Homo sapiens: one gene and its partners. The protein of the gene in region 1 purifies or fractionates together with the protein of each later gene. This does not show direct contact. Each region holds a gene or a part of one and is shown in the gene's direction. Other genes may lie near its edges.

Evidence for each region.
Region 2: the proteins of LUM (region 1) and THUMPD1 purify together in Homo sapiens (affinity purification with mass spectrometry; 2 studies listed by BioGRID and IntAct, with this or other methods). This does not show direct contact.
Region 3: the proteins of LUM (region 1) and CTH purify together in Homo sapiens (affinity purification with mass spectrometry; 2 studies listed by BioGRID and IntAct, with this or other methods). This does not show direct contact.

The regions. Positions count from the first base shown.
Region 1 is NC_000012.12:91,108,492-91,115,686, reverse strand, and holds the start of LUM (lumican precursor), read left to right. Parts: upstream 1-4,192; 5' UTR 4,193-4,289; intron 4,290-6,686; 5' UTR 6,687-6,707; coding exon 6,708-7,195.
Region 2 is NC_000016.10:20,733,136-20,738,828, reverse strand, and holds the end of THUMPD1 (THUMP domain-containing protein 1), read left to right. Parts: intron 1-872; coding exon 873-1,121; intron 1,122-1,542; coding exon 1,543-1,949; 3' UTR 1,950-5,165; downstream 5,166-5,693. UniProt on the Homo sapiens protein: Functions as a tRNA-binding adapter to mediate NAT10-dependent tRNA acetylation modifying cytidine to N4-acetylcytidine (ac4C).
Region 3 is NC_000001.11:70,435,258-70,440,379, forward strand, and holds the end of CTH (cystathionine gamma-lyase), read left to right. Parts: intron 1-3,430; coding exon 3,431-3,569; intron 3,570-3,843; coding exon 3,844-3,870; 3' UTR 3,871-4,594; downstream 4,595-5,122. UniProt on the Homo sapiens protein: Catalyzes the last step in the trans-sulfuration pathway from L-methionine to L-cysteine in a pyridoxal-5'-phosphate (PLP)-dependent manner, which consists on cleaving the L,L-cystathionine molecule into L-cysteine, ammonia and 2-oxobutanoate.

The DNA.
Region 1 (7,195 bases):
ATGCTTTAAAATATTTCTCAGTTTTAATTTTGAATGTGATACACACTGGTAGATGGACTCCACATACGTCTTTGGGGTCCTCAAAACGTCAACAAATTTTAAGTACATAGAGTCCTGTAGGCAAAATGTTTGAGAAACGCTAGTCTGTGGGAACAGCACTTCAGTCAAAGAGAACAGCTGGTAAAGGACCTGAAGTAGGAACAGACTTCTCATATATCAGGTCCTGGGTAAAGGTCAAAATGGCTAGAATGTAAGGCAGAAGGAGGAAAGAAAATGGCATCAGGGAGTTTAGCCATGGTCAGATGCTTTAAGGTTTGATAAGCCTACACTTAAGGAATAAAGAAGGGAGACTGGCACTACCAGATATTATTTAAGAAATAAAACTTTAACAATTAGATCATAGATATTTTAAGCTTGATCATATTCAAACTTCATGAATGACTGGTGAAAAAGTGTATTCTCATCTACCTTTGATGGGAGTGATAAGCAGAACAACATTTTGGAGGTAATTAGGTAATAATTATAAAATTTTTAAATATGTGTACAAATTTGTGTTCTCCAGAAAGCCCACTTACTTTTGGGATTTTCCTTAAGCTATCTTGCACAAAACTTCCTCAATACAGCATTGCTTATCATGAGAAAAGAGGAATTTCTCCCAAAAGCAAATTTATGACTGTGCACTTACCTAAGTGAAGAAGTTATCTGAGTTCTGAACTGTCTGAGTTATCTCATAGGCTGCCATAAAAGAGGAAAGAGAAATGAAATTCTCTTGTGTATATAAGACATGTCTGAAACATCTGAATTAATAAAGTCTAAACAACAATTACTTATAGAAAGTGCAATTGGAGAGTTAGTTAAGCCAGGGGTTATTTAATGTTTAACCTTATATACTGCTATGCTGGTTAATGTTTTGGTATAGTGTTCCAATTTATATATATTACTCTTATAATGCACACTTATTACTGAAAAACATATAATAAACCATATCATTGATAATTCCAAAAATGTACTTGTCATGTAAGATACTAAGAAAAATAAAAGCAATTGTAGAGTAAGTTTGAAAATACATACAGCTATGAGTATAAGGACTATGTAAATAAAAGATAGTTTCATGACTTGTAAGATGCTAAAATTAAGAATGGGAATTAGATTGTTGTGAGAAGAGAAAAAATTCAAATCCACTCCACTCTATGATTTGAAAGCATAAACCATTTACTCAAAATATGCTTTCATTTAAAATGTATCTTTTGAGATAAGCAGAATAGACAAAGCAGGTACAACCAATTTAAAGATTAAAATTTCATTTTATGTGATAGTGCTTTGCAAATTTTAAGAGAAATCAAGTGTTCAATATTAAAAACTAACAACTACATTATGGTATATCCATATAACAGAATTTCATGTAGCAAATAAAAATGACAGTAGAGAATGATATTTAATGATATAGAAAAACATCAATGATTTACTGTTATATGAAAATGGGTCTGGCACTATAAGCATAATGTTATGATATATGTGAAAACCAAATTGTCTGTGTGTTTATGTTTATACCCACACATTAAGAAGATATACCAAAAGATAGTTATCTCTGGGATGGAATACTTAATTTATTCTTTTCCCCTGTAAGTCCAGGGCTGGGTTCAGAACACAGTGTGTGAAACAGTCATAACATGCTTTATTATCCTTGCTGGTCTCAGGTAACAGGGAATCCAGTCCCTGGGCTGAAGAGGGCAATTCCATCTTTTTTTTTTTTTCTTTTTAATTTAAGTTCCGGGATACATGTGCAGAATGTTCAGGTTCGTTGCTTAGTTACACATTTGCCATGGTGGTTTGCTGCCGCTATTGACCCGTCATCTGGGTTTTAAGCCCTGCATGCATTAGGTATCTTTCCTAATGCTGTCCTTCCCCGTGCCCACCAACCCCTGACAGGCCCGGGTGTGTATTGTTCCCCATGTTCTCACTCATAAGTGGGAGGTGAACAATGAGAACTCCCATCATTTTAACCTGTATTGTGATGAAATGCATTTAGCCTCCAATGCTCATTATCACCAATGATGTGAATCACCATTGGCCAGGATGGAATGTTTATACGTTACCCAAAAGTTCTGAGATGTGGATGTGGCTATGCATGTTATATGTTAGTGTGTAATGTAAAAGGAAAGAAACTATTGCTTAATTAACATTTGACTTTTTAAATAACTATTGCCTATTTAATATTTCTGCTTTTTCTCAACTGATAGTAACATTGTCTATAAAGTATTTTAAGCTGATTGAGTGAACTACATTGTCTCAGCTCCATCCTGTTCACCCTCTTCCCAGTGAGTGAAGATGTTCATGGTTTTATTCTTACATTTACTTGTTAGGTGACTTTTAGCAAATGAATGAGACTTTCTGACTCTCCATTTATACTCCTGAAAATAGAGTAGTAAAACATACCATAGGAATTTTAATGTATGAAATTTAAAGGAAGAAATGTGAAAACTCTGAGTATAAATCATGGAATATATTAGATCCACTATAAATGTTAATTTCATTTCTTTCTATTGGACCCTGAAAATATGCTCTGAAACGCACAAAATTATTCAATTATTGGTTTCACAGAACTGATTTTATTAAAAAGTATATGTTGACAAGACTTTACAATGAGCTAAATCCAATATAATGCATTTGAGGTCTGTTATAAATACCACAACACATGTATTGCTTTATAAAGAAAAATCTTAAGGAATGGATAGGTGGAGTTTTTCTAACAAGAGCTCAGATTATAGAATTTGATACACTCAAAATTAATACATAGCATTGTTTTAAGAATCCTCTTATAACAAGATCACTTAATTATATTCGATTGATTTGTCTTTTTTTCTTAATTCCTTATAAATTTATTCAGTTACTTTGTTGAAACTGAGGCCTATCAATAATTTTCTTAAAATAATATTAGGAAAAATGTTATGTTTATGAATCATCTTACAATTCCATTAGTTACTTTCAAGAAGATTACTTTTTGTTTTTGAACACTGCTATTACAAAAATAAGCCATTTATTCTAATAGTCTTTTTTTCGGACAAATGCAGTATTAGTCATGGAGTTAATTTTCCACAAGTCTCACTGCTAAAATGTGATATAGTTATTTTTAAAGACAAAAATACAATGTGACAACTTATATTAAAATATATTGGTGTAAAAGTTCTTATAAACATGAGGAAATGAACATTTTAGAAAAAAATCTCATAAATATATCTGATAAAATCACAAAATGAAATAGACAAGGATTTAAGTACATCTCTCATTTGCTGAAACCATGCATCAGGAGCTGATAATGAAAGATATATCCAGCCAGGCCTTTGGGAGATTATAACTTTGAATAACTTTTAACTTTGAAAAAAAATTACTAGCATGCAATGAAAGATTCTTGCCTTGTGATACTTTTAGTATAAATTTATTTTTTTCTCTGTTCTTTTATGTTTTTTGGCATTAAGCTATAGAATGCTCTCCCCAAGTAAGGTTTTGGGTGAATTCCTAAACGAAATCCACAAAATAAAAAACAGGCAAGACTTTGCTGATTGGTTCCAGACCTGAATAACATAAAATGAGTCTCCTTAGCATTAGAAGTAAACTTGAAATGTTGATATTTATCATGTGTATCCAAGTGTATATGAAGCATATTTTATATTTTTAAAACTAATGTAAGCTACCCTCATGGCCAAAAAATTAAGTTAGTCCAAGTAAATCAATATTGATTTCAAAAGTGATAGGCAAAGGGATTCAATTCCTCTGAGTCTGTTCATTTGCGTTTTCCTGAAATTATTTGCCCTGCTTATGATTTCTGAGATCTTTAGATAAACATGATAGTTGGCTGAGCACATTGCACTTAATTGTTGCCACAGCCACAGATGTAAAGAGGCTTGTAAGAAAAATGTTCTCACAGTGAGCTTCCTTATTTGAAGCAGGACTCAATTCTTGGTTAAAAGCTATGGTATTTGAGCTAGTTAAACACATATCTCTCTCCCATTCCATAGGGAATGAGCTGGGCTGTCCTTTCTCCCCACGTTCACCTGCACTTCGTTAGAGAGCAGTGTTCACATGCCACACCACAAGATCCCCACAATGACATAACTCCATTCAGAGACTGGCGTGACTGGGCTGGGTCTCCCCACCCCCCTTCAGCTCTTGTATCACTCAGAATCTGGCAGCCAGTTCCGTCCTGACAGAGTTCACAGCATATATTGGTGGATTCTTGTCCATAGTGCATCTGCTTTAAGAATTAACGAAAGCAGTGTCAAGACAGTAAGGTAAGTGCTGTTTTAACTATTGCACTGGGGATGTTAACTGTTTGGGACAGCGTTTTTTGTAACAGGAACAGGAAAAATTCCAGAGCAATTTTGCCAATTGCTATTCAACAGCAAATCCACAGTTCTGAGCATTTAGTTTCACATTTTGTTAATATGTTTTCCATGATTTATAGATTTGAGATTTTATACAGTATATGCTGTATTGCTTGGCAAGAGAAGTTATAAAAAGTTTCAAGGTTAGAATGAGAAAATAGTTAAAGTAGACACAGTGAAAAAATATAGAAATTAATATGTTTGTTATGTATGCTAGTTAGTTATATATGTTAGTATTGGACCCTAATACTGGAGCAAAGAAAAGTCATTTTAATCAGCATTCAAAATATCTTTTAATAAGCATATTGTGACAATTTGTTATAATTTACAATAAACGTTCTATGTTATAAAACATGAGCTAAAAGATTTAGGAACTCTTATGGATTATTTATTTCTGTTTTGTTAATTTAAAAAATTTGTTTCTTGGATATATGCCTTAAGGAACGAGTTTTTTAAAAAGTTCTGGGAAATGATTTCGTTTTTGAAAACAGCATTTTCTCTATAGCCACAGGTATTTGAAAAAACTGAGGGTAGTACAGTGTGATTTTGCCTCATAGTGGAGTCATTATATGGTTGCAAACTCTCATTCAATTCAGCATCCTTGTTTTTACTTTGCCAAAAAATATGGAAGCATTTTTCATTACTATTTAATACTCACATTATAGTTGCCATATTTTGGTGTATAGTAAATTTAAAATAGCTTATTAATAAAGCAAGACAAATCTTTACAGTATTTACATTCTATAACTTAAAATAACTCTGGGAATATGTCATCACGTTCTTTTTAGTGCTATGCAATTATTATTATGGCCAAGTTCTGTCAGCAAAATTAAATGCCCCCATTAAAATCTTAGAGAGTAATTTACTGAGAATCTGGCTACATGTTACCTTATGTCAGCAATCAAAGTATTTCTAAAAGCTGTTTTATAACGTTCCATCTGATCTGAAATAAAGTGCCTTACAATTTCAAATTAAAACAAATAAAAGACGTTTTCAGTTTCTAACCCCAAAGATCCTGCTTATCCCAAACTACTTTGATCCAAAAGCTTGTAATCATACTTTCATAGAAAGATATAATATTCTCAGTTATCTATTAGAATGTAGATCTTTCGTCACATTAATGATTTATCTCCCAGGGCTACCAACTTTGCCTCAGCCACAACTGTTCACTCTATAAAAGTCTAACTCTTATATTCCAATTTTCCCATATCTAAATTGCTGCACCTAAGACATTGAAATGTACTTTTTTGAGCCTCACCTTAGAAACATGTTCCTATGAGAAGATAACTGTTACACATTATTTCAAATTCATATTCTCAATTGAATAATTTACTAGATAGTTCTAACACCAGTATTAAATCCAAACTTTAAAAACATCACACCTCTCTCCCACCTCCATTCTGTGAGGCCACTAAAAGCCAGATATGCAAACCATGGCATCTTCGATTTTGGCATGAAGAAAGTAGAGAACTTGTGAGTAATTGAGAGAGACTATAACTCTAATTGAAAACTTGGAAAATACTATCTTTCTCTACCTGTTGAATCTCTTTCCAGAAAGAGAAACCTTCAGAATGTGTGACATTTTCCTGATAAACATTAGCAATTATTAAATATTACTAATATTTTGTTTAGTAAATAGCTAATTTATGAAATATTAGTTCCAGAACACAGTTTTGCAATGTGCTTTAAAAAGTGTAGAATGTTAAGCACAACATGAACTAGTATGCATGCACACCAGCACCAAGAATTCTGTTCTCCTTCCTCAGAACCAACAGTAACCAGACACTTTTAAAGGAATGTGCCTTCCATTTCCCTCCCACATACAAGCAAAACCTCAGGTTGCCCATATTCCCGTAAGGATCTTCTTCATGAGTCATTTTAATGATGTCGAATGGTAGGGTAGAGTATACAGTTAAAAACTGTCTTCTCATTCTCTTTTTTTGAGAGATGATCTGAAGCAGTAGTCTAATTCGGTGGTCAATGAACACCACCCAGAAACCTCTTACAGGAAGGCATTTCATTAAGGAAGAGCCTGGAGATTGACTGGAACAATTAGGCTGGGCTCGCCCAGAAGGGGGCGCACGTGTACGCAATCTAACCTGAAAGCTGCTCACTACATAGTTGTAAACATACACCTTTGTCCTCATACCTAAATAAAAATTTAAAAGACGCTGTTAGATGCACTAAAAATAGCTATAAAATAACAAAATGCACATTTTCTAATGAATTTAATGTTGCAAATTGAATGTCTTTTTCTTGAAAGTATATATTTTTTTAATTAATAAATGTTTCATCTTTATTTAGGATTCAAACCATTTGCCAAAAATGAGTCTAAGTGCATTTACTCTCTTCCTGGCATTGATTGGTGGTACCAGTGGCCAGTACTATGATTATGATTTTCCCCTATCAATTTATGGGCAATCATCACCAAACTGTGCACCAGAATGTAACTGCCCTGAAAGCTACCCAAGTGCCATGTACTGTGATGAGCTGAAATTGAAAAGTGTACCAATGGTGCCTCCTGGAATCAAGTATCTTTACCTTAGGAATAACCAGATTGACCATATTGATGAAAAGGCCTTTGAGAATGTAACTGATCTGCAGTGGCTCATTCTAGATCACAACCTTCTAGAAAACTCCAAGATAAAAGGGAGAGTTTTCTCTAAATTGAAACAACTGAAGAAGCTGCATATAAACCACAACAACCTGACAGAGTCTGTGGGCCCACTTCCCAAATCTCTGGAGGATCTGCAGCTTACTCATAACAAGATCACAAAGCTGGGCTCTTTTGAAGGATTGGTAAACCTGACCTT
Region 2 (5,693 bases), on another chromosome or scaffold:
TGCTTACAAAATGGCTTCTTGGGCATGACTCAGTTAATCATTTGATGGCAGCTTCTGTACACTGTATTAGCAGTTGGCCTGTGGAGAGGTAGAATGGGGTGGTGGACGTAGCATTGGCTTATGAGTGGAAACCTGGCTTTGCTGCTTCCTTCGTATATAACTTAAGGCAGAACTAGAGTGCCAGTTCTGTGTAAATAAGGGGCAGCTGCTACTCAGCTCCAGCCAGTTGTTGCTCTTTGGGAATGCAGGGCCAGGTATTTGAATTTCTCAAAAGAAGTTTGAAATCTGGAGTTTTTTTGTTTTTCAGTGTGGTCAACTAATTTACAAATTTTCGGAGCAGCCCCAAATATACTTGTATGTAGGCAAGTTGCAGCCTGAGGACCTCCCTTTCATGATGTTGTGCCCAGCATGGTTCTGGGATTCCTCTTGGGTCTGAGATTTAGACTTGTGTGCTAACTTAGCTAATGGATTAATTACATCTTTTAAAGTGACTCACAGAATTTTTTTTTTTTTTTTTTGTAAAAAAGTGTGTACTGTTTAATGTACTCTGTTGTTACAGGAAAACAACAGCATGGTGTTACGGTTGGATAACTCAGGACATCACAAAAATGTTAACAACGGTGTCTACCTAAACAGTCATTTCTAGTGCAAGCAGTAATAATGATGAAAAGTTAAAATATATTAGATACATTATAGTACGTATTAGGCACTGAAGAAATACTGTTTGGAAAGAATGACTAGGTAGATTCATTTAAAATTCATTATGAGAATTTCTTCTGTCAACTTATGTCATTGCCAGTGAAAATTCATTTTAGAGTTCGATCTTTAAGATGTCTGAGAAATTATCTTCTTAACTTTTTTTTTTTCTTAAGAGCCTGAGAAATTGGTGCATCATATTCTCCAGGATATGTACAAAACCAAGAAAAAGAAGACTCGAGTTATTTTGCGAATGTTACCCATCTCAGGCACATGCAAGGCTTTTTTAGAAGATATGAAAAAATATGCAGAAACATTTTTGGAACCCTGGTTTAAAGCTCCAAACAAAGGGACATTTCAGATTGTGTACAAATCTCGAAATAACAGTCATGTGAATAGAGAAGAAGTTATCAGAGAATTGGCAGGTATGTTTCTCTTAGTGATTTTCCATAGGCATTCAATGGTAAATACTTGTTTTTTAAGGATTTTTTTCTTTTTAAAGATTTAAGGCTTACATTTTTGAGTGTAGAACAAATATATTAAAATGTTCTTAAAATAGTATTAAATCAACTGATTTCAATATGTCGGATATGAGATTTTCTGGTAGTTAGATAAAAGTCTTTTTTAACTCGAAATTGAATTTTGTTTGGAAAAAAATTCTTATTAAATGTTGTAGGGTTTCATTTGTGTTTATTTATTGTAAGGGTTCAGATTATTTGAAGTCCACATAGAAGAGTGGATTACTGTATGTCTTGTTTTAACAAGAAACAGAGACAAAAGATTTTTTGTATCTATCAGATGTAATGGTATCCTCCTCAGCTATGTGTTTTTCTGTTTTTGTTACAGGAATAGTGTGCACCCTCAATTCAGAAAATAAAGTGGATCTCACCAATCCACAGTACACAGTGGTAGTAGAAATCATCAAAGCTGTCTGTTGCCTGAGTGTTGTGAAAGATTACATGTTGTTTAGAAAATACAATCTCCAGGAGGTGGTGAAGAGCCCTAAGGATCCGTCACAGCTTAACTCAAAGCAGGGAAATGGGAAAGAAGCTAAACTGGAATCTGCGGACAAATCAGACCAAAACAACACAGCAGAAGGAAAAAATAACCAGCAGGTACCAGAGAATACTGAGGAGCTGGGGCAGACAAAACCAACGTCTAATCCACAGGTGGTAAATGAGGGAGGAGCCAAACCTGAACTTGCAAGTCAAGCCACAGAAGGATCCAAGTCAAATGAAAATGACTTCTCATAGGAAGTCATTTGGTGTTGGAGGTGGGTTTCTCACCTGGGGCTCTACGAGATGTTGCTGGGGCTCCACCTTAAATTGTGACTAAAAACAGTTTTTTATTTGTGTGCTGCATTATGCTGTTCTCACAGTAGTGAGCAATGATTGCGCAGCCCTGTTAACAGTTTTTTTAGGGATCTTTCAGCCTTTATGGTATTACGTAGAGGCAGACCCATGTGCTGCTGTTGCAAAGAGGGGAGGATAGGAGGGGGATGTTGGCCTCTCCCAGGCTCCTCTTCTGCAGTGCCAGCTGACTTAAGGGAGTGAACTACCTGTGAAGTAGAAAATCAGAGGGAAGTTTTCATTCTAAGGAAGGAGTTTTTACATGCCACAGCTCAGCTGTCTGCCTGCCACTTTGTTGTAAACATTGCAAAAATGTGGATCATGTAGGTTAGAAGTGAATTGTTTAGTGAAGTTTTTGTACTTTTGTGATTTTCTTGTTTATGTCTGTTTTTTTTTTTTTTTTTTAACATTTGTGTGTAATATAGCTGACAGTCCAGTGTCGCAATTTTGGAAGGCAAGATGTGAGAGAGACGAGAACCATTTTAGGCATAGAACTACAGACATTTCTGAAAAGGTTGGTGATGAAGAACTTCAGTCTTCTGAGTATACTTCAGTATACTAGTGCAACAAGGGACACAAAGAAATTCTGTCTTAATAAAGAAAGCTACTTCTCAAGGGTATTATGTGGACTCAGTCCAAGCTCTCCTGTCCCATTGTGCATTGTCTGTGACATGCAACTTACAAAACTAGCAATTGTAACAATAAATCACAGCCACTTGACAAGAAAGGATATTCATTATTTTCAAATGGCTTTTGGACTATCAAAAACAGTAAGGCTTTTGTTCAGAAATCACCTTTAGTCAAAAGGTTTAAGAAGCAAATTATTTAGTAGCAGAACTTATCTCAGGAAAGGAAAATATGCATGGTTGGTGAGAATCTAATAACATTAAAATGCTGGGGCAAGATGCAGTACAAAGTTGAAGAGACTTTATTCTCAATAAGTTGATTTACTGATGATATGTCATATGATGCAAAAAAGGTTTTGTGTCATTAACTGAAAAGTAGCAGCTTCTCTATCCAGGATGATGAGTCAACAGGTTTCACTAATATTTGTCATGCTGTAGCATTTGTAAGATTTGTAAATGATGAAATTCAAAGAAAACTTTTTCTATTGCTAGGAGCCTGCCAGAACAAAGGCCAATATATAATGTTGTGACATCATATCTGATAACCAGAGGTCTGGTATCTACACTCCTGGTGCCCCATCAGTGGTTGTCTCCATAAGTCATTTTGCGTTATTAAAAAAAAAAAAAGAAATCCTGATGTTGACATTATAGCACACTGCTTTCTCCACAGAGATGCTGATATCAAAAACTTGAAGATACAGTGAAGTTCTGAATAATGTTACAAAACTGGTTACCTGTATCAAAGACCCATTTATGCAAAAATGTTAAAAAAAAAAAAAAACACCCAAAACAAAAACCTGGACAGACAGCACATAAACCTCCTGCACCATACAGACATCCAGTGGCTTCTCAGAGGAAGCGTTCTCTACAGGATATTTGAATTGAAAGGTGAATTGCCAGAGTACTTACAATAAAACAGCCAGCTTTTGCTGAGTGCTTTGGAAATGAAAAATGACTACAGAAAGTAGCCTATTTTGCAGACGTTTTTCATCACATGAACAAATGGACAAGTCTCTGAAAGGTTCTGGGGAAAAAAATTTTTCTTAAAGCGACAAGACTCTTAGATCTAAAAGGAAACTGACTTGCCACCTTGCCAGAGGAATTCTTGAAATGTTTCTGCAGCCACTTGGCCTTGAAAATAAAGGGTGCAACTCTCAAATCTTGTTCTAACCCGGCTGGAGGAACCACAAGACCCAATGAAATAGCATTTTCTCTCCTTTTCCCAGCACTAGTATATAACCTATGAGGAACCCTTGTCTCTGAATCTGCTCAGCTTGAAATTTTGTCTCTGAAGGAAGAGAATGAACTCAGCCCTAGTCTGACAGTCCTAGATTTCTGTGAAATAAGAGTATTCTTCAACTTAGTGCTCACACTCACATACCATGAGGGTTCTCTGCAGGGGTTTAGGGGTTTCCTGAATTTGAAAGTTTTTTCAAGGCCTCTTTTTGGGTAAAACAATTGAAAAGGCAGACACCAACAAAGTCTGCAAAATTAACTGTCCAGATTAAGAATATTAAGGAGCTGTAAAATTAGCTTGTAGAAATGGACTTATCCTTAAGTTTTAAAAAGTTAGGAAATCCTAAAAATGTTAGGCTTCCTGCACAAGTGGCTATGTTCATTTAATGGCTAGTGAACATGGGAATGTATTTTTATCCTCCTAGCTGGTGGTTCTGTTTGGTAAACCAGACTAGAATGATTTGAGAGGGGCAAAGAGAATAGGCAGGACCTTCCTTCTATAGCTTTACATATTTAGAATGTTAATACTTAATGACATTGAAGTTACCTTGCAATGATTGATAAGAGGATTATTAATATCAGTTAGGGGAATAGGGAGGATAGGATTTTGGTGCCTTCTTCAGCAGACTTGCTCCAAGACAAAGATTCTATTTTGATAGTGCAAGACAAAAGGACTCGGAAGAAAATTGGCCATATGCCTACAGAGCATACAACTCTGTGGAACTAAATTGTTTTTACTTTGTGAAAGCTGCTATTTTACGGAAAGATTTTGATTATACAGTTTGTTTTTAAATTGTCTTTTATATTTATTTGTATTTGGTAAGAATCGGTTGTTACACAAGCTGTTCTTTCCCAGTTACAAAATCCTGTGTTCGGTTGTAACCTGAACTCATTAAAAGACTTGTTTTCAGGTTTATCAACTGTTTATTTTCACTGACATTTGAGCATGTTATTTTATAAATGACGGGATTCCAGGGTAGGAAGTGCTTTTTATTCCCCTTTTGTTTTTTCTTTTAAAAAATTACGTCAGTTAAAAAAATAAAAAAACTGCAGTCTTATGGTTTAGAAAACTTGTTTAGCTCCATAGAGGAAAGAATGTTAAACTTTGTATTTTAAAACATGATTCTCTGAGGTTAAACTTGGTTTTCAAATGTTATTTTTACTTGTATTTTGCTTTTGGTACGGCCAGAAATCGAGCTTGTTTTTTCATAGTTCCTGATATTTTCAGAAAAATCAAAATAAATTTGTTCCCTAAAAATTGGTGTTCTAATATTTTTTCTTTCTTTCTGACTCTTAGTAAATCTCTTGCTTTATAGTATATATATATCATAAAATATGTTTATATGTCAAATTATAAAATGCCATGGACATGAGCCTAAAAAACATTAAAAAATTATTACCCTTGAATAATTAATACTTCTAAATCCAAGTTTCAGATATTTTACAGTTAATTTGCTTCAAAATGAGCCATAGTAATACAGTACTTACTTTCATTAAATTCACTTACTGATTTTTGAATTATTTATACTCATTTTAACAGTATTTTAATATATTGAAGTTTGGTCTCATAAAGTTGTTAAGTAGAAGAAATTGTCTTGAACATTTAGGATATATCTTTATTTTGAATTAATCAGGCACAAGATAGATGAAATACAGATTCATTGTGCACTTTCTTTTTCTAAGTAATCATTTGACTCCTGCAATTTTAAACACTAGAAACCATCATTACCTTTGTCAGTTTGGTTATTGAAACAATTTTCATCCATATATTTTTAGACTTTTATTT
Region 3 (5,122 bases), on another chromosome or scaffold:
GGATAATTCAAGATATTTAACAATAAGAATAGCAGGACATTAATCAGAATGGACTCTAACCCTGTCAAGATGGAGACCCTGATAAAATCTCATGGAGGGCTTCTTGTTAGTGAGCGGTGTCCTCCCAAATGTTGCTTCCTTCCCTGCTCTGTCAAAAAGAGATTCCAGCAGTAACTGTATTCTAGGATCTCTGATCTCTGACCTCTAAGCAAGGGCCACATGTTCTACCCTACTCAGCCTTAGAGGGGATTGGAGACTTTGTACTAGAAAAGCTGTTTTCAAGGCTCTTTGGGAAACAGAAAATGTGTCTCTGATGAAACTCCTCCATGCCCTTGATTGTTGGAGAACAGCCCTACTAGATACTGTCAAATCTTTTGTTTTCTGTTCTCTGTAGGATAAACCTTTAATGTCTTCATGTTGTGTACAAGATAAATCCAAACCCTAACTTGGTACCAGGCCCTTCAGTATCTAACCCAATCAATTCATCTAGTTTTTTCAAAGCATCAGAGGATATTGGTACAAGAAGCAGTCTAAGATCATACAGTCCAGCAGCTTATTTTACAGGCAAGGAAACAAAGATCCAGAAAGTTGAGCTGATTGACTCAAGTGTCACACAGGAACGTGTTCGCAGCTTCACTCTTGGATTTGCATCAGAAACAGTGAGGGGAGGTAAAAGGTGCTTGGATCTAGATTTGAGATCTGCTTCCACCAATTAGTTAACCTTTAAACTTCCATTTTTTAACACATAAAATGAGATTAATAATTAATGATTTTCGGCCTGGTGCAATGGCTGACGCCTGCAATTCCAGTACTTTGGGAGGCCGAGGTGGGCCACTTGAGGTCAGGAGTTCAAGACCAGCCTGGCCAACATGGTGAAACCCTGTCTCTCCTAAAAAAAAAAAAAATTATCCGAGTGTGGTGGTGTACACCTATAATCCCAGTTACTTGGGTGGCTAAGGCACGAGAATCGCTTGAACCCAAGTGATGGAGGTTGCAGTGAGCCGAGGTTGCAGCAAGCCAAGATCGCACCACTGCACTCCAGCCTGGGTGATGCAGCGAGACTCTGTCTCAAAAAAGAACCAAAACAACAACAAAAAATTAATGATTATCATTTATTGATTACCTGTCCCCCCAAGCATTCCTGATATATATATTACCTTTATTATATGCTACTATGACCATATGTTGTAATTACTGCAGGGTTAAGTCAACATCATAACCTAACTATTTTTAACTGTACTAAATGTATACGGTGTATTTCTGTGTCTTCATTTTTATAAACATTTATGGAATAACTTGTTTTGCAAGCATTGTGTGGAGAAATGTCAGGTCCCACCAAAGTTTAGGCCTATTTTCTGTCTTTGTATAGGAGTTTACAGTTAGACCAAAAGTCAGGCAGTCTCACCAAGTTAAAAAAAAAAAAAAGATGTCTAAATAATGACTTGAAATAATTCATGTAACGCAGATTTTTGTTAGTCTTTCCGGAAGATGCCTGCTAGTAAGTTTGGATGCACAAGAGGGCACACTCAGCATGTGAAATGGGTTTGTTTTTCACAGTAATGAAATGTGTATTACGTTAAGACTCTCTTGTTTAAAAAATTGTCTTAAAATAAATCTCTCCTGATTTATTTAGGGATTTTTGTTTAAAGTTGCTTGGCCCCCAGACACTCTGGTTTAGGCTATAACCCCGATGCCAGAGGATGAGTGGATTTAGGTCAGGGCTTGTCTGTTCTATCACCCTTCATTCTGTGTCTCCCAACTCTGCTGCTACTAGTGCAGCATTGCAATATGGGAGGAAGGAAGTGAAGCTAATGTGTATTAGCTTAGTCTCCCAGCCTCACAACACATGTAACTCTGTGACCTTAGAAAAGTTACTCATCCTCCCTAAATCTCAATTTCCTCAATTTTAAAATGTGGACAACACTCTACATAGCTCTTAGGTTTGTTGCGAGAACATGGGGAAAAAAATCCCTAAGCTAATGCCTTCGTTCATACTAAGTACCCAATAAACGTTAGCACCTACTATGAACTATTATCTTTTATTAGACATCTCTACTACATTCCAAGTGCTTAGAAGTGCTTTATACATGTTCCTTCAAATTAATGTCTGTGACAAACCTTTAAGACAGGTGTTATATCCAATTTTTATTCATTAAAAAAATGAATTAATGCACACAAACCACCTAGTAGAGTATCTGTCTCATGGTAAGCACACAGTAGATGCATCTATTATTATTTCAGATAAGGAAATAGGCACTGAGGATGAGTAACTTTTATAAGGCCACATAGGCAGTATGTGGAAGGGCTAAGATTCATACCCAAGTTTGTTGGTCTCTGAGACCTGAGTTCTTATTTCTACATGTACACACTCTTTTAAGGAATTACGAGTCTCCCAGGGCAGAACATTTTAAGATGGATGTTTGTATCTAAACAACACTTTAGTAAAGTGACAAAGGAAGATATCCATCACTCAGACCACAGCTGAGATTTTTTTTTCCCCATGGCTCTCATGTAAGAGAGGAGAAAGCAGCTTAGGTATTGATTTTGCTGGTGGTGTGCAGGGAAAGGAAGAGTGTTGGTTGTAATACACATACTGGGGTTAAGTAAGATGCTAAACCTCTCCTCCATTATTCTTCACAGAAATTTCTCCTTCCCTGGAACTTGGCAGTCTTTTTGTCTATACTTGTTTGGCATTGTTTATATAGACTATTTTGTTTTGTGAATTGTCATCGCTTTTACCTCCTGCTTTGTTATTTAGGTTAAAGAAAATATCTCATTCTTCTTGGTTTCCCAATTTTTACTGCAGTGCTTGACATATTATGGGTGGTTTTCCTTTACATCTGTTGATGATGGTAATGGGCTGCTAGATCGTTTGAAAAATCCTTCCAGGCCTCTATGCCAGGAGTTATATTGTGGAATTCTGAATGCTTACTGGTTGCTACTAGTGATTCTTGGTCATCTTTCTCCGATGTGCCTCAGAAGGTCTAGCTCTGGATTGATTCAGAGGAAACTAATTATGACAGGCTCTTGGTCCAAGAGACCTCTTATAAGTAGCAATCCAGTAGGTTGGTCATGGAGTACATGATTTCTGGCCAAACTTCATTTAGGCAGGTATTAAAATATACACATTGGGGAGGCTATGCCTTACCCTACTGCATGGGGGTACTTGACACACACTTTCAGTATTTGGATTGAGCATATCTTACCAATGGTATAAACAGGATAAAAACAATCTTGCTTTTCATTTAAAATCATAGCTAGAAGAGATAAGTTTCGTAATTTTCTCTTTTTTTGCCTGTGAATTATAGGGGTATGCAAAATTTGATATTTGGACCAGAAAAATGTTGAGGGTAATTGCAGTTTATGAGACAGAAACATGCCTCCACTGACACAATATAGTGATCAAAAATTTGCTCATGTCTTCTTTCAGGGCAATCATGACTCATGCATCAGTTCTTAAGAATGACAGAGATGTCCTTGGAATTAGTGACACACTGATTCGACTTTCTGTGGGCTTAGAGGATGAGGAAGACCTACTGGAAGATCTAGATCAAGCTTTGAAGGCAGCAGTAAGTCTTATTATTGTGTGTGTGTGTGTGTGTGTGTGTGTGTCTGCTTTATCTTGGGCATGGGGGGTCACTATATTTACAAAGTGTGGTCTCACTGTGAACTCTAAAGCTTTTCTGTTCCTGTAATAGACCAGGTGTATAAATAAACGTATAGGGAGCTCAGTCAAAGTGCATATTTAAAGGATGGTAGTATTCAGAAAAAGGACTTCTTGAGGAGTTGAAGCTATGGCCTATATGTTTAATAACATATTTTTCTTGTGCACTGTTATTATAGCACCCTCCAAGTGGAAGTCACAGCTAGTATTCCAGAGCTGCTATTAGAAGCTGCTTCCTGTGAAGATCAAATCTTCCTGAGTAATTAAATGGACCAACAATGAGCCTTTGCAAAATTTTCAAGCGGAAATTTTAAGGCACCTCATTATCTTTCATAACTGTAATTTTCTTAGGGATCATCTCTGTTAAAAAGTTTTCTGTATGTCATGTTATAATTACAGGTCAATTCTGTTAATATCTTTTTGTTAATTTTGCTCTATGTTTGCCTCTGAAGGAGGTGAGATTTGTGCTACTTTGGGAGATTATGTTCTTTTTTCATGTCTAAGATTTATTTTGATCATGTTTATAATATAATGGTAATTCATTTTTGATGTTTTGTGAAGAATTTAAATTTAAACGAATGTTCTTAAATCAAGTGTGATTTTTTTGCATATCATTGAAAAGAACATTAAAAGCAATGGTTTACACTTAGTTACCATAAGCCGAAAATCAAATACTTGAAAAGTTTACTGTGAAATTCTACTGATTTAAGACTATACTTAATATTTTTAAAAAAATAAATCAGCTGGGCGCGGTGGCTCACGCATGTAATGCCAGCACTTTTGGAGGATAAGGCGGGCGGATCACGAGGTCAGGAGATTGAGACCATCCTGGCTAGCGCAGTGAAACCCCCATCTCTACTAAAAATGCAAAAAAAATTAGACGGACGTGGTGGCGGGTGCCTGTAGTCCCAGCTACTTGGGAGGCTGAGGCAGGAGAATGGCGTGAAACCAGGAGGAGGAGCTTGCAGTGAGCCGAGATCGTGCCACTGCACTCCAGCCTGGGTGACAGAGCGAGACTCCGTCTCAAAAAAAAAAAAAATCTAATTATCAAATGCATCCCATTGTGATATTCCTACATTATGTGACATTAACCTATATTCCTGGGTCCTTTTAATTCCCAACTACTGCTCTTAGAGGTCTTAGCCTTTTATGTTAATTTTTATAAATTCAATTAAATAAATATTATTCCCAAATCTTAGTGTTTGCAGATTAGTTATAAATCCTATCCAAGGTAGGTTAAAGGCCACCGTTTTACAGATAAATAGTACTTTTTATATTTTTATCTGAAATAGTGCATTTGTTGAGAATAAAAGAAGGTATGTTTAAAAATAGAATCTTTTGGGCCTGGTGGTACGTCCTTGTAGTCCTAGCTACTTGGACAGCTGAGGTGGAGGATCTCCTTGAGCCTAGGAGTTCCAGACTGCACTGGCGTCACTGCACTCCAGCCTGGGCGACAGA